Homo sapiens: one gene and its partners. The protein of the gene in region 2 interacts with the protein of the main gene of each other region in a pairwise test. Each region holds a gene or a part of one and is shown on either strand. Other genes may lie near its edges.

Evidence for each region.
Region 1: the proteins of NDRG4 (region 2) and ERGIC3 interact in binary tests that used the Homo sapiens proteins (3 or more experiments, as listed by UniProt).
Region 3: the proteins of NDRG4 (region 2) and RHBDD2 interact in binary tests that used the Homo sapiens proteins (3 or more experiments, as listed by UniProt).
Region 4: the proteins of NDRG4 (region 2) and THAP4 interact in binary tests that used the Homo sapiens proteins (3 or more experiments, as listed by UniProt).

The regions. Positions count from the first base shown.
Region 1 is NC_000020.11:35,548,578-35,552,077, reverse strand, and holds part of ERGIC3 (endoplasmic reticulum-Golgi intermediate compartment protein 3), read right to left. Parts: coding exon 3,404-3,500; intron 3,271-3,403; coding exon 3,213-3,270; intron 1-3,212. UniProt on the Homo sapiens protein: Possible role in transport between endoplasmic reticulum and Golgi. Positively regulates trafficking of the secretory proteins SERPINA1/alpha1-antitrypsin and HP/haptoglobin.
Region 2 is NC_000016.10:58,503,143-58,506,642, forward strand, and holds part of NDRG4 (protein NDRG4), read left to right. Parts: intron 1-563; exon of another isoform or gene 564-601; coding exon of another isoform or gene 602-655; coding exon 656-761; intron 762-1,011; coding exon 1,012-1,132; intron 1,133-1,216; coding exon 1,217-1,279; intron 1,280-1,446; coding exon 1,447-1,507; intron 1,508-3,244; coding exon 3,245-3,331; intron 3,332-3,415; coding exon 3,416-3,472; intron 3,473-3,500. UniProt on the Homo sapiens protein: Contributes to the maintenance of intracerebral BDNF levels within the normal range, which is necessary for the preservation of spatial learning and the resistance to neuronal cell death caused by ischemic stress.
Region 3 is NC_000007.14:75,885,534-75,889,033, forward strand, and holds the end of RHBDD2 (rhomboid domain-containing protein 2), read left to right. Parts: intron 1-2,458; coding exon 2,459-2,816; 3' UTR 2,817-3,393; downstream 3,394-3,500.
Region 4 is NC_000002.12:241,588,659-241,592,158, reverse strand, and holds part of THAP4 (peroxynitrite isomerase THAP4), read left to right. Parts: intron 1-3,500. UniProt on the Homo sapiens protein: Heme-binding protein able to scavenge peroxynitrite and to protect free L-tyrosine against peroxynitrite-mediated nitration, by acting as a peroxynitrite isomerase that converts peroxynitrite to nitrate.

The DNA.
Region 1 (3,500 bases), on a different chromosome or scaffold from region 2:
CTCCTTCTCCAGGACTTCACTCCGGTCACTGTCTCGTCTCTGGAGCATCACTTATGCTCTTTAGTCGATAATTTCCAACAGCATATTAACATTCTGCTACATCACCCTCCTTAGAAAAGCCTCCCTCGACTCCACATTTCCCTCTAGCTTCAGCTCATGCTCTCTCCTCCCCTAGGCAATTTCCACTATAGAGCTGTCAATACTGGCTCCAACTCCTCCCCCATTCCCTCCCGAACCCACTCTAGGGTGGTCCTGTCACACCCTTAAATGACTCAGTCAAGGCTATAAGTGACTGTTGCATGTACATGCCATGGTCAATTCCCGCTTGACATCCAGAAGCATCTGATGTGGTATTTGAAACACCCGTCCGTGGCTGGCAGGATGCCACATTCCCAGCTTACACTCCTCCTCCAGTCTCCCCTACCAATTCCCCCTGACACCCTTGGCCTCTAATGTGGGAGGCCTGGCACCCAGCCCTTTGAGCTTCCCTTCTTCTCCATCTGCCCTCACCTCCAGGGTGATTTCATCCAGTCCCACAGCTCTATACACATGCTGATGATGCCAACATCTGCATCTCCAGGCAAGTCCTCTCCCTGAACTCCAGGCTTGAATGGAAAACTTACTTGACACCTTGGGTGTCTAGAAGGACACCCAGATGCTATTGGTCTGAACACGTCAAAAGCCGAATACCAGCTGTACGATCCCATTTCCGAACATCTAAACCTGCCCTGAGTCTCCCTCATCTTGCTAAATGGCAACTCTATCCTTTTTTTTTTTTTTAATGGAGATGGAATCTCACTCTGTCGCTCAGGCTGGAGTGAAATGGCACAATCTCGGCTCCCTGCAACCTCCGCCTCCTGGGTTCAAGCAATTCTCCTACCTCAGCCTCCCGAGTAGCTGGGACTACAGGCGCACGCCGCTACGCCCGGCTGATTTTTTGCATTTTTTAGTAGAGACAAGGTTTCATCATGTTGCCCAGGCTGGTCTCAAACTCCTCAGCTCAGGCAATCCACCTGCCTTGGCCTCCCAAAGTGCTAGGATTACAGGCAACTCCATCCTTCTTACTACTCAGGTACAAAACTTTGGAGGCATCCTTGACTCCTTTTTCCTTTATCCCTCATGCCCATCAGGAACTCTTCTCAGCTCTACCTTCAAAATACATCCAGAAGCCAGTCACTTCCCACCACTTCCACTGCCACTCTGGGCCGTGCCCCACCATCTTTTGCCTGGATTGATCACTGCAACTGCCTCCTAATGGGCCTCTCTGATTCTGTCCTTTCCCCTGCCCAGTCTTGTCCACAGAGCAGCTGGAGAGCTTTTAAGTCAGATCATGCCTCACCTTCTTCAGGGCCCTACAATGGCTTCTCATCTCATGCAGAGTAACGGCCCGAGTCCCTACAATGCCCCTGCAAGCCCTGCATGATATGGCCCTGTGACCTCTCTTTATTTATTATTATTTTTTGAAATGGAGTCTCACTCTGTTACCCAGGCTGGAGTACAATGGCGCAATTTCAGCTCACTGCAACCTCCACCTCCCAGGTTCAAGAGATTCTCGTGCCTCAGCCTCCCGAGTAGCTGGGATTACAGGCGTGTGCCACCACACCCAGCTAATTTTTGTATTTTTGGTAGAGACAGGGTTTCACCATGTTGGCCAGGCTGGTCTTGAACTCCTGACCTCAGGTGATCCACCCGCCTCGGCCTCCCAAAGTGCTGGGATTACAGGTATGAGCTACTGCACCCGGCCTCTCTCACTTCATTTCTAAGCATGCTCCTCTGCTCCAGCCACCCTAACCTTCTTACTGTATCTTGAACTTGCCAAGCACATTCTAGCCTTAGGAATTTGCATTTGCTGTTCTCTCTGCTTGTAACACTTCCTCCCCAGACATCCACATGGCTGGCTCCCTCACTGTCTTCAGGTCTTTGCTAAAATATTACCTCATCAAAGAGTTTTTCCCTGACCTCCATATTTAAAATAGGACCCTCACTGCCCTACCCTAGCCCCTCCCCATTACCATCTTTATCCTGCCTTGTTTTGGTCCATATGACTTAACAGCATCTGATATACCATATACAGATGCTCCCTGACCTACACTGGGGTTACGTCCCAATAAACCCATTGCAAGTTGAAAATATTGTAAGTCGGCCAGGTGCGGTGGCTCATGCCTGTAATCCTAGCACTTTGGGAGGCCGAGGCGGGCAGATCACTTGAGGTCAGGAGTTCAAGACCAGCCTGGCCAACATAATGAAACCCCATCTCTACTAAAAATACAAAACTTAGCTGGGCGTGGTGGCACGCACCTGTACACCCAGCTACTCAAGAGGCTGAGGTAGGAGAATCACTTGAATCCAGGAGGTGGAGGTTGCAGTGAGTCAAGATCATGCCACTGCACTCCAGCCTGGGCGACAGAGTGAGACTCTGTCTCAAAAAAGAAAAAGAAAATATCGTTAAGTGAAAAATGCATGTAATACCCATCATGAAGTTAAAAATTGCAAGCTGAACCATTGTTAATTGGGGACTATTTATATTTTATATACTTATTGTCTATTTCTTTACTAGAATGTTCTGAGGGCACAGATTGTTCACTACTGTACCCTTAGCAACTAGACTAGTAGGTGATTACTAAATATTTTGTGAATGCATGAATGAACAAATGAATGAGAATAAATCTCATTTGTTCACCCCAACAGCCCTGTGAGTGGGTACTATTATCATCATCCCCATTTTACAGAAGAAGCAACTAAATAGGGCCCAAATATGACATAGCCCAGGTGTGGCAGAACCTGTGCTCCAACCTAGCTCTGCTTCTCCCAAAGCCTCATGCACAGGTCATCATCGGACACGGGGGGCTACCATTTCAACAAGTACCTACCACAAGCCAGGCTCCGTGCTATCATCTTTAACCTGCACACACACCCTGTGAGATAAGTGCCCTCACAACATTTTATAAAGTAGAAAACAGGAGTCAAAAAGATTAAGAAACCTTCTCAAAGTCACACAGCCAGTAAGGTCTGAAACTGGTATCTGAATGCAGGCAGTCTGGCTCCTCGGCCTGTGCTCTTAGCCACTGTGCCAAACTGCTGCCCTGAGATGAAGGCCTGCTCTGGCCAAATGGTTGCCCAAGACAAATGAGCAGCAGGCAGAAGAGGACCACTCAAGCTCACCAAGAAGGTGGCCAGCATCTAAATCTCCCCAGCTAGTGCAGATCACTCACCGTGCACATGGGACTGCTGGAAGCTCTTCCCAGGGGCAAAGTGGAAGTTTCCGGCCACCTGTAAGGAACATTCTCTCTCATTCACTGGCTGTGTCCTCCTTTTGCCTACTCAGGGCCTGACTGGGCCCTCGGTTCCCAGTGGAGCTTGCCCAGCCCAGCTGGCCCTATCTTGTCTTGATCCCTCCTGATACCTTATTGACTTCCAAGAAGCCATACACCTGGCAGCCTTCATTCTTCTGCTCCTGCATCTTCTGGCTGAAGCCCTCTCGCCGGCACTGCTCAATAGTA
Region 2 (3,500 bases):
TGAACTCAAGAGGATCCCAGAGCAGGCTCTGCAGAAGGCCTCTAGAGGGGATGGGGAGGGGGGTCTGACCCGGGCCTGCCTGAAGGGAGCCCTTGAGGATGCTGGGCTCACACAGAAGGGCGTTCAAGGTGGAAGGAACCACATGCGCAAGAGCCTTAGAGTGGGAGCCAGGGGCAGTGCCGGGGTCGGGGCTAGGCTTGGCTGGCACGGGGTGTTTTCTGAGGATTCCAGGCAGGACCACTGAGGCCGTTCCCCTGCAGCAGCAGGAAGTGCCTGAGAGTTCTGAGTGTGAGAGGGACTTGGGCTGGGGAGGCAGAGCTGTCCAGGAGGGGCTGCTGCAAGATGGAGAAAAACAGCCTCCCTGGACCCTCAAGGGCGGAGGACAGTGACAGCACAAACCAGTGGCTGGTTTGCAGAGAGGACCAGACCTTCCCCATGCAGATCAGTTCACATTGTCTCTGTACTGAACAGCCCTGAGAAGGGGTGTTCCATCCATTCAGTCCTCTCTGGGGGCTTCTTGGGGTGATGAGAACAGGATGCCCCAAGTAGGGGCTCTACCACAGGCCTAACAGGTACCAGGCTGCGTCACCTCATTCCCCAGAGGAGCCAAGAGCGGAGGCTGCCCAGAGTGTCCAGCACGGTCTCTCCCCTTCAGGAACATGACATCGAGACACCCTACGGCCTTCTGCATGTAGTGATCCGGGGCTCCCCCAAGGGGAACCGCCCAGCCATCCTCACCTACCATGATGTGGGCCTCAACCGTAAGTGCAGCCCAGCCTCAGTCAGCCCTCCTCTGCCTCCCATCAGCCAGAGCGGTGAGGCCCCCCACCCTCCCCACAGGGCCCTGTCAGCCCCACTCACACTCACCTCTGTTGCCTTCGCCCTCCGGGCCTCCATTTCCCCGACGGACCCGAGGCTTACACTTCTGCCTTGCCTGCCCTCTGGGGGCCCGGCCTTCCTTCCAGTCCCCCGGCCCCTCTGCTCAGCCATAGTGGAAGTGTGTCTTTGCAGACAAACTATGCTTCAACACCTTCTTCAACTTCGAGGACATGCAGGAGATCACCAAGCACTTTGTGGTGTGTCACGTGGATGCCCCTGGACAACAGGTGGGGGCGTCGCAGTTTCCTCAGGGGTAGGTACCCTGAGCCCCCTCTGCCTGTCTCCAGCTCTGCACCTGAGGCCACACCTGGGCCCTGACCTCCTGCTCTGCCTGCAGGTACCAGTTCCCCTCCATGGAGCAGCTGGCTGCCATGCTCCCCAGCGTGGTGCAGCATTTCGGGTGAGTCCCCGCACAGCCCCTGCGCTAGGGCCCAGGGGTGCCTACCCCAACTGCAGAGCCACCTGGCTCCAGCTGAGGGCTTCAGGCTATGGGCAGGGCCTGCTCTGGATGACATGTATGGGAAATGGCACCCCTAGCCCTAGAGTGACCAGCCTGCTCTGCACCAGGTTCAAGTATGTGATTGGCATCGGAGTGGGCGCCGGAGCCTATGTGCTGGCCAAGTTTGCAGTGAGTCTCCCCATGCCCCCATTACCCCAAACACCAGGGCAAGCCAGGGATGTCCCAGTGGTGGGGACTGGGGGGAACCCTTCAGCCTTGAGGAAGTGTCCCTGCTCTCGCTTCTCCTCCTCCCACCTCCTCTTTATGTAGAAAACCTCTTTTTTCTTTTTTCCTCCAGGGAAATTAACTTTTTTAAAAAAGAGGTTCCTTTCTCCATATAGTTTTCTCAAGAGACTAGAAACTATAACTTGCTTAAACTATTATCCAAAGCCAGAATTTCTAGTAGCAACAAACTATACAACTAACTGCTCTAGCCACTAAATAAGGATCGTCCTTCACTAATTGCCATGGTATTTCAACATGAATAATTTTTTTAGCAAAAAATTTTATTATGGTTGGGAGGTTTAAAGAAGGCACATTTCAAAAACATCATTGTCGGTGGCTCACACCTGTAATCCCAGCACTTTGGGAGGCCAAGGTGGGCAGATCACGAGGTCAGGAGATCAAGACCATCCTGGCTAACACGGTGAAACCCAGTCTCTACTAAAAATACAAAAAATTAGCCGGGCGTAGTGGCGGGCGCCTGTAGTCCCAGCTACTCGGGAGGCTGAGGCAGGAGAAAGGCGTGAACCCGGGAGGCGGAGCTTGCAGTGAGCTGAGATCGCGCCACTGCACTCCAGCCTGGGCAACAGAGCGAGACTCTGTCTCAAAAAAATAAAAAAATAAAAAAAATCATTGTTGGGTAGGAATTCACAAGCTTTTCATCTCTAAAAACAAGCAAAAAAAAAAAAAACAAAAACCCAAAAGACTAATTTTTCACGATCGAAGACATTTACTACTTCAAAAGAAATGACCAAGAATTTTCAACTCCAGTTGCAATGTCAGCACTTAATCATTTTGTTAACTGGAGGCCATTCCCTGCCACCCTAGACAAGCTTGATGTGGTTATGCTGTTTTTCTTTAAGCACAGTCTAACAGTTGAAAAGAAAATACCTCTTTTGCAATGCCTACGGCAAAACAGACTTTGAAAAGGTTGTTTTTTTCTTAATTTATATCATGAGGGCTTCATTTTCTTTTTTTTTTTTTTTTTTTTTTTTTTGAGATGGAGTCTTGCTCTGTCGTCCAGGCTGGAGTGCAGTGGCATGATCTCGGCCCACTGCAACCTCCACCTCCCTGGTTCAAGCAATTCTCCTGCCTCAGCCTCCTAAGTAGCTGAGACTACAGGTGCATGCCACCACGCCTGGCTAATTTTTGTATTTTTATTAGAGACAGGGCTTCACCATGTTGGCTAGGCTGGTCTCGTATGCCTGACCTCAGGTGATCAGCCCGCCTTGGCCTCCCAAAGTGCTGGGATTACAGGCGTGAGCCACGGCGCCTGGCCAGGGCTTCATTCTCTATAAAAGCAAAAAAACAACATGCTTAAGATTTTAAGATGTTTAATACTCAATTTTGCACTTCAAAAATATATTAAGAGCTGATTCTGTTGAAAGAGCGTGTGTGTGTGTGTGTGTGTGTGTCTGTGTGTGTGTAGGGGTGGAAACAATGATAGAGATTCTAAATAAATCCAAGAACTGTGAAGGGTTCAGTGAGAGGAGGACAGGCAGGGGCATCTGGACATGGGTGTGCATGCACAGACCCGGCTGTAGCCGGGTGGCTGATCAGCAGCACCTTGAAGACTTTACAGAGTGTTTCTGCCATCTGCACCCATCCTGGCCCCGCCCGGCCCTGTTTCCCCTCTTACTGCAGCTCATCTTCCCCGACCTGGTGGAGGGGCTGGTGCTGGTGAACATCGACCCCAATGGCAAAGGCTGGATAGACTGGGCTGCCACCAAGGTGTGTGTGGTGACCGGGGGTGGGGTGGGTATACCTAGGGTGGGGTGAGGGGCGGCACTCACGCTGGCGCCCTGCTCCCTGCAGCTCTCCGGCCTAACTAGCACTTTACCCGACACGGTGCTCTCCCACCTCTTCAGCCAGGTAAGGGGGGGAACTTCTGCAGATCTGG
Region 3 (3,500 bases), on a different chromosome or scaffold from region 2:
AAAGGCGTGTTCATCCATTTTGTATTGCTATAAAGAAATACCTGAGCCTGGGTCATTTATAAGAAAAGAGGTTTATTTGGCTCATGGCTTCGTAGGCTACACTAGGATCATGGCACCGGCCTCAGGCAGCTTCCAATCATAGGGCAAGGGGAGGCGGCACCACACATTGAGAGAGGGAGGGAGGTGCTGGGCTCTTAAACACCCAGCTCTTACCTAAACTCAGAGGGAGAACTCATTACTACGGGGAAGAAGCCAAGCCACTCACGCAAGGTCTGCCCCCGTGACCCAGACGCCTCCCACTGAGCTCCACCTCTAGTGCTGGAACACTGGGAATCACGTTTCTTTTTTTTTGAAATGGAGTCTCACTCTGTGGCCCAGGCTGGAGTGCAGTGGCGTGATCTCAGCTCACTGCAACCTCCACCTCCTGGGTTCAAGTGATTCTCCTGTCTCAGCCTCCCAAGTACTTGGAATTATAGGCGCGTGCCACTATACCCGGCTAAAGATCCATTTCAGCACATGATTTGGAGCAGAGGAAACATCCAAAGTGTATCAGAAGGCAAGGTGCTTGGTCCTTGGCCCTTTTTGGCCCGCCACCAGCTGTGGAGTAAATTTTCCCCTGCACGCTGGCCTGGATGTGGGGTTTTTGTTGAATAGGAAGCTGCCCTTAGAGCTTCTTCCAAGAGGTGCTCCCAGCTGTCAACAGCTCAGAGCCCTTGGACTATTTTTCTAAAAGGCCAGGAGGGCTGCTGGGAAAACAGAAATGCGGACTCACCGCATTATTGCTTCAGGCAAGTAATTCCTGGGGTCTCAATGTGGGGGAGACTGTACATTTAGGACTAGGTGTTTTGTGGGTTTTAGTTGTTCTCATTGAATCTGGAGAACTGTCTGTCACCAAGGAATCCCCTCTGTAATAGCTGATGGTGGTCTCCAGCTGTATCTCACATACAAGAGCTCACTCTCCAAGACTGGCCCTGATGAGAAAGTTCTTCCATGCTGAAGGGCCGGGCGCGGTGGCTCACACCTGTAATCCCAGCACTTTGGGAGGCTGATGCGGGTGGATCACGAGATCAGGAGATCGAGACCATCCTGGCTAACACGGTGAAACCCCATCTCTACTAAAAATACAAAAAATTGGCCATGTGCGGTGGTGGGCACCTGTAGTCCCAGCTACTCGGGAGGCTGAGCCAGGAGAATGGTGTGAACCTGGGAGGTGGAGCTTGCAGTGAGCCGAGATCGCGCCACTGCACTCCAGCCTGGGCAAAAGAGCGAGACTCCGTCTCAAAAAAAAAAAAAAAGAGTTCTTCCATGCTGAATTGCAATCAGCCTCACAGACACTGCCACACCCAGTGCCAGGTCTGATCCTGCCTCACTGTGACAGGCAGATCTTAGGGTTTAAGAGGAAGATGGTGTTCCTTCTGTGTTCCCCACGTGACATGGAGTCCAGTCCCTCAGGTCTGGTGCCTGCTGCAGACACTCAGAATATTGTGTTTCAGGCAGCCTGACAGTGGGTCCAGGGCCATGTCATGACACGCATGTTTATTTTGTCAGCAAGATGGCCGTTTGGACAGCTTGTCTCCTCAGAGGCTCTTGTTGATAGATAATTTTTTTTTTTTTTTTTTTTTTACACATGGTCTTGCTCTGTTGCCTAGGCTGGAGTGCAGTGGCACAGTCATAACTCACTGCAGCCTCAAACTTCTGGGTTTAAGCAGTCCTCCTACCTCAGCCTCTTAAGTACCTGGGACTAGAAGCATATGCCACCAGACCTGGCTAATTAAAAAAAAAAAAAAACAATTTTTTTTTTTGAGACAGAGTCTTGCTCTGTCACCCAGGCTGGAGTGCAGTGGCACAATCTTGGCTCACTGCAACCTCTGCCTCCCAGGTTCAAGCGATTCTCCTGCCTCAGCCTTCTGAGTAGCTGGGACTACAGGCGCCTGCCACCACACCTGGCTAATTTTTTTTTTTTAATTTTTAGTAGAGACCGGGTTTCATCATGTTGGCCAGGCTAGTCTCGAACTCCTGACCTCAGATGATCCACCCGCCTTGGCCTCCCAAAGTGCTGGGATTGCAGGTGTGAGCCACCATGCCCAGCCTGAATCCGTTCTCTTTGGGCAGAATTGTCGAGCCAGCCACACAGGCACTGGCAGCTGTGACCTGGTCCCAACGCTCCATCTGGTTTAGAAGCTGCTGTGAGCAGGTCACCCCTCCGGTGGTCTCAGTGGCAGGTCCAGTGTCCTTTCATACAACTCCCTTGCTGCAGGACTGCAACTGGCCCCACCCTCCCTGGGCATCTGTGGTCTGATTGGTTGAGGTTAACCTTTCTCCCACTTGGTACTTAGAGCAAGTCACAGAAAACATCCAAGGCATGTTGTACTAGAAAGCGGGGGCAACCTCAAGCACAAGATGCCATGACCTTGCCAAGACTCGCTGAAGGACCATTTTCTCTCTTGTTCCATTCCAGACTGAACCCGGTGCCTGGCTCCTACCCCACACAGAGCTGCCACCCTCACCTGTCCCCAAGCCACCCTGTGTCCCAGACGCAGCACGCCAGTGGTCAGAAGCTGGCCTCCTGGCCCTCCTGCACCCCCGGGCACATGCCCACCTTGCCTCCGTACCAGCCTGCCTCCGGCCTGTGCTATGTGCAGAACCACTTTGGTCCAAACCCCACCTCCTCCAGTGTCTACCCAGCTTCTGCGGGCACCTCCCTGGGCATCCAGCCCCCCACGCCTGTGAACAGCCCTGGCACGGTGTATTCTGGGGCCTTGGGCACACCAGGGGCTGCAGGCTCCAAGGAGTCCTCCAGGGTCCCCATGCCCTGAGAGAATTTCTAGGGAAGTCATCTCACTTGGCCTTCTGAAGGTCCTCCCTAAGAGTCTCCTGACAAAAGTTACTTATTGAACACCTCTATGTGCCAGGCTCTGTGTTGGGTACTTTGATCAATGCCCCTGTTTCAGTCTCATCTGTACTCACGGCAGCCCTGTGGAGTACGGTGTACTGGCCCAGCTTACAGATGCAGAAAGCGAGACGTTCTGCCATCAGATAAAGTCACGTGGCTCTTTAGTAACACGGACAAGGCTCCTCGCCAAGGAACTCGTGGCAGAAGAGGGCAGCAGTTGGCAGTAGCTGCCGATGTCTGTCCCCAGCTCCACCATTCCTCCCTGTGGCTGTGCCGTGCTCGTGGTTTCAGTGTCCGTGTGTCCATGTGTCTGCCCTTCAGGAGCTCGCAGCTGGTGTGCTTGGCGGTCCCAGGCCTGTGTAGTGTCTCTCCCCTGCTGCGGGCGCCCCCACCCCGATTCCTCTCCCCAGAAGCGGTGGGATGGGCCCCCATGAACTGCAGCAGCATGCTGAGGTGTCCATGTTGTCTGCCTTTGTATAAAGAAACAGCCTCTGACCTGCCGTGCTGGCGTGTGCTTCCTTTGTGGTCTGGCTGGGGAAGAGGGAGTGCGCTGAGATCTGGGCAGTGGCAATGTGTGGTGTGGCGGCAGAGAGGAGAGATGCACCAG
Region 4 (3,500 bases), on a different chromosome or scaffold from region 2:
GTGGGTGGCTCTGGACCTAGCTTTGCAGCCTGGGCTGCCACCGGTGACCTGCGAGCTTGAGCATCTTTTCACGTCGTTGCTGGGTCATCCTCCAGCGAGGTGCCTGTTCAGGTCTGGTGACCATTTCCACTGTGCCTTTTCTGGCTGACATGTCAGAGTTCTTTATATGATTTGAATAAAGCTCTGTTAGCTAAATGTGTTGCAAATAGCTTTTTCGGTCTGTGATTATCTTTTGAGTTTTACAAATTGTTTTTGAAGAACAGAGGTTCTGGATTTTATGTGGTTCAGTTTGCCAATCTCTTCCTTTATGGATTCTGTTTTTAATGTCTTAGTTAAGCAGTCTTTCCTCACTAACAGGTCAAAATATGTATTCTGAATTTTTCTGGAAGCTTCACAGTTCAACCTAAAATCTTTCCTTTAGGTCATTAATCCACCTGGGGCTGAGTTGTGTGTATAGTGTGAAGTGCTGTCCCCTCTCCTTGTTCTCAGATGAGGGCCAGCTACCCTGCACCCTGCATGAAGAGCCCGGCCCCCCTGTTCACCCATGCAACTGCCCCCTGAGCCCCTCAGTATCCTTCATCAGGGGTCTGCTTCTCACCCTCTCTCTGGTTCCAGGTGGTCTGTTTGTCAGTCCCTGTGCCAATACCACACTGTCTTCATTATCATGGCTTCTACTTTTTAAAAATCACCTCTATTGAGGTATACTTTATATGGAATAAATGCATACACTTCAAGTGTGCAGTTTGATACATTTGGACAAGCATATATAATCTTGTAACGCTGCGCCAGTCAAGACTGAGAACAGTCCCAGCACCCTAGAAAGTCCCCGTGCTCCACAGGCAACCCCCGCTGCCCTCTCAAGCCCCCGGCCTGGTTTCTGCCACTGTAGACCGAGCAGCTCTGAGTGTCCTAGTGCCCATGATCATCAGCCGAGCAGTTCTGAGTGTCCTAGTGCCCATCATCATCAGCCGAGCAGCTCTGAGTGTCCTAGTGCCCATCATCGTCAGCCGGGCAGTTCTGAGTGTCCTAGTGCCCATCATCGTCAGCCTGGCAGTTCTGTCTGTCCTAGTGCCCATCATCATCAGCCGAGCAGCTCTGAGTGTCCTAGTGCCCATCATCGTCAGCCGGGCAGTTCTGTGTGTCCTAGTGCCCATTATTGTCAGCCGAGCAGCTCTGAGTGTCCTAGTGCCCATCATCGTCAGCCGAGCAGCTCTGTGTGTCCTAGTGCCCATCATCGTCAGCCGGGCAGTTCTGTGTGTCCTAGTGCCCATCATCGTCAGCCGGGCAGTTCTGTGTGTCCTAGTGCCCATTATCGTCAGCCGGGCAGCTCTGCGTGTCCTAGTGCCCATTATCATCAGCCGAGCAGCTCTGAGTGTCCTAGTGCCCCTCATCATCAGCCGGGCAGTTCTGAGTGTCCTAGTGCCCATGATCATCAGCCAAGCAGTTCTGTGTGTCCTAGTGCCCATCATCATCAGCCGAGCAGCTCTGAGTGTCCTAGTGCCCATCATCGTCAGCCGGGCAGCTCTGCGTGTCCTAGTGCCCATCATCATCAGCCGAGCAGCTCTGAGTGTCCTAGTGCCCCTCATCATCAGCCGGGCAGTTCTGAGTGTCCTAGTGCCCATCATCAGCCGAGCAGCTCTGTGTGTCCTAGTGCCCATTATCATCAGCCGAGCAGCTCTGAGTGTCCTAGTGCCCATTATCATCAGCCGAGCAGCTCTGCGTGTCCTAGTGCCCATTATCATCAGCCGAGCAGCTCTGAGTGTCCTAGTGCCCCTCATCATCAGCCGGGCAGTTCTGAGTGTCCTAGTGCCCATCATCATCAGCCGGGCAGCTCTGAGTGTCCTAGTGCCCCTCATCATCAGCCGGGCAGCTCTGAGTGTCCTAGTGCCCATTATCATCAGCCGAGCAGCTCTGAGTGTCCTAGTGCCCATTATCATCAGCCGAGCAGCTCTGTGTGTCCTAGTGCCCATTATCATCAGCCGGGCAGCTGAGTGTCCTAGTGCCCATTATCATCAGCCGAGCAGCTCTGAGTGTCCTAGTGCCCATCATCGTCAGCCGAGCAGCTCTGCGTGTCCTAGTGCCCATCATCGTCAGCCGAGCAGCTCTGCGTGTCCTAGTGCCCGTCATCGTCAGCCGAGCAGCTCTGAGTGTCCTAGTGCCCATCATCGTCAGCCGAGCAGCTCTGAGTGTCCTAGTGCCCATCATTATCATCAGTGGAGTCACAGCACACAACTCATTTGTTTCCGGTCTCCTTTCCTCACTGAAACGCTCTCAAGATTCAGCAGTTCTGCTGCATGTGCCACGTCTGCTTGTTGCTGTGTGGTGGTCCACCAGTGAGCTTGTCAGTTTTGTTTATCCTTTCTGTTGATGGATGTTTATTTTATTTGTTTCCAGTTCCGGGCTATTAGGAATAAAGCTGTAAGCATGTGTAGACCTAACTTTGTGTGGACACATGTTTTTTTTCCTCTTGGGTGCATACCTGGGATTGGAACTGCTGGGTTCTGTGGTAAGCACCAATCTCTTCCAGAGTGGCTGTCCCCCTTGACACCCCAGCAAGGTTGTCCCACAGCCTCGCCAAGGGTTGGCCTTTGAGTTTTATCCTGGCCACTACAGGGTGGTATTTTATTGTGATGTTAATTTGCACTTCCCTGCTGAGTAACGATGCTGCTCATCTTTTTGTTGTACTTATTTGCCACTTGTATTTCTTGTTTTGTGAAATGAACATTCAGATTTTTTGCCCATTTGTTTAAGTGTTTGTGTTATTCCTGAGTTGTAAGAGCCTGTTGTTTGTTCTGGGTATAAGTCCTTTATCAGGTGTACTTGCCAACACGATATTCCTATCCTGTGCCTTGCCTTTCTGTTTCCTAGACAGTACCATTTGAAGAACCAAATGTTGTTTTTTTTGGTGGGGGTGGGGGGTTTCTTTTCTTTTTCTTTTTTTTTTTTGAGACATTGTTTGCTCTCGTTGCCCAGGCTGGAATGCAATGGCCTGATCTCAGCTCACTGCAACCTCTACCTCCCAGATTCAAGCGATTATCCTCTCTCAGCCTCCCAAGTAGCTCGGATTACAGGCTCCCACCACCATGGCCGGCTAATTTTTTGTATTTTTAGTAAAGACGGGGTTTCACCATGTTGGCCAGGCCGGTCTCGACCTGACGTCAGGTGATCCACCCTCGTTGGTCTCCCAAAGCGCTGAGATGACAGGCGTGAGCCACCATGCGCAGTCTAGAACCAAATGTTTTAATTCTGTTACCATTTTTTTTCTCTAGTCAGTGCTTTTTGTGTCCTGTCTTAAAATTTTTCACCTAGCCCAGGCAGCAAAGATTTTCACCTGCATTTTCTTCAAGAAGTTTTATAGTTTTAAGATATATGCTATTTGGAATTGCTATTTCTAGATGGTATGAGGTAGTAGTCACGTTTTTTCCATTTTTCCTCATACAGATACCTCGTTTCCAGCACCATTTGTTGAAAAGAGAACCCTTAATTTATTAAAGTATGCA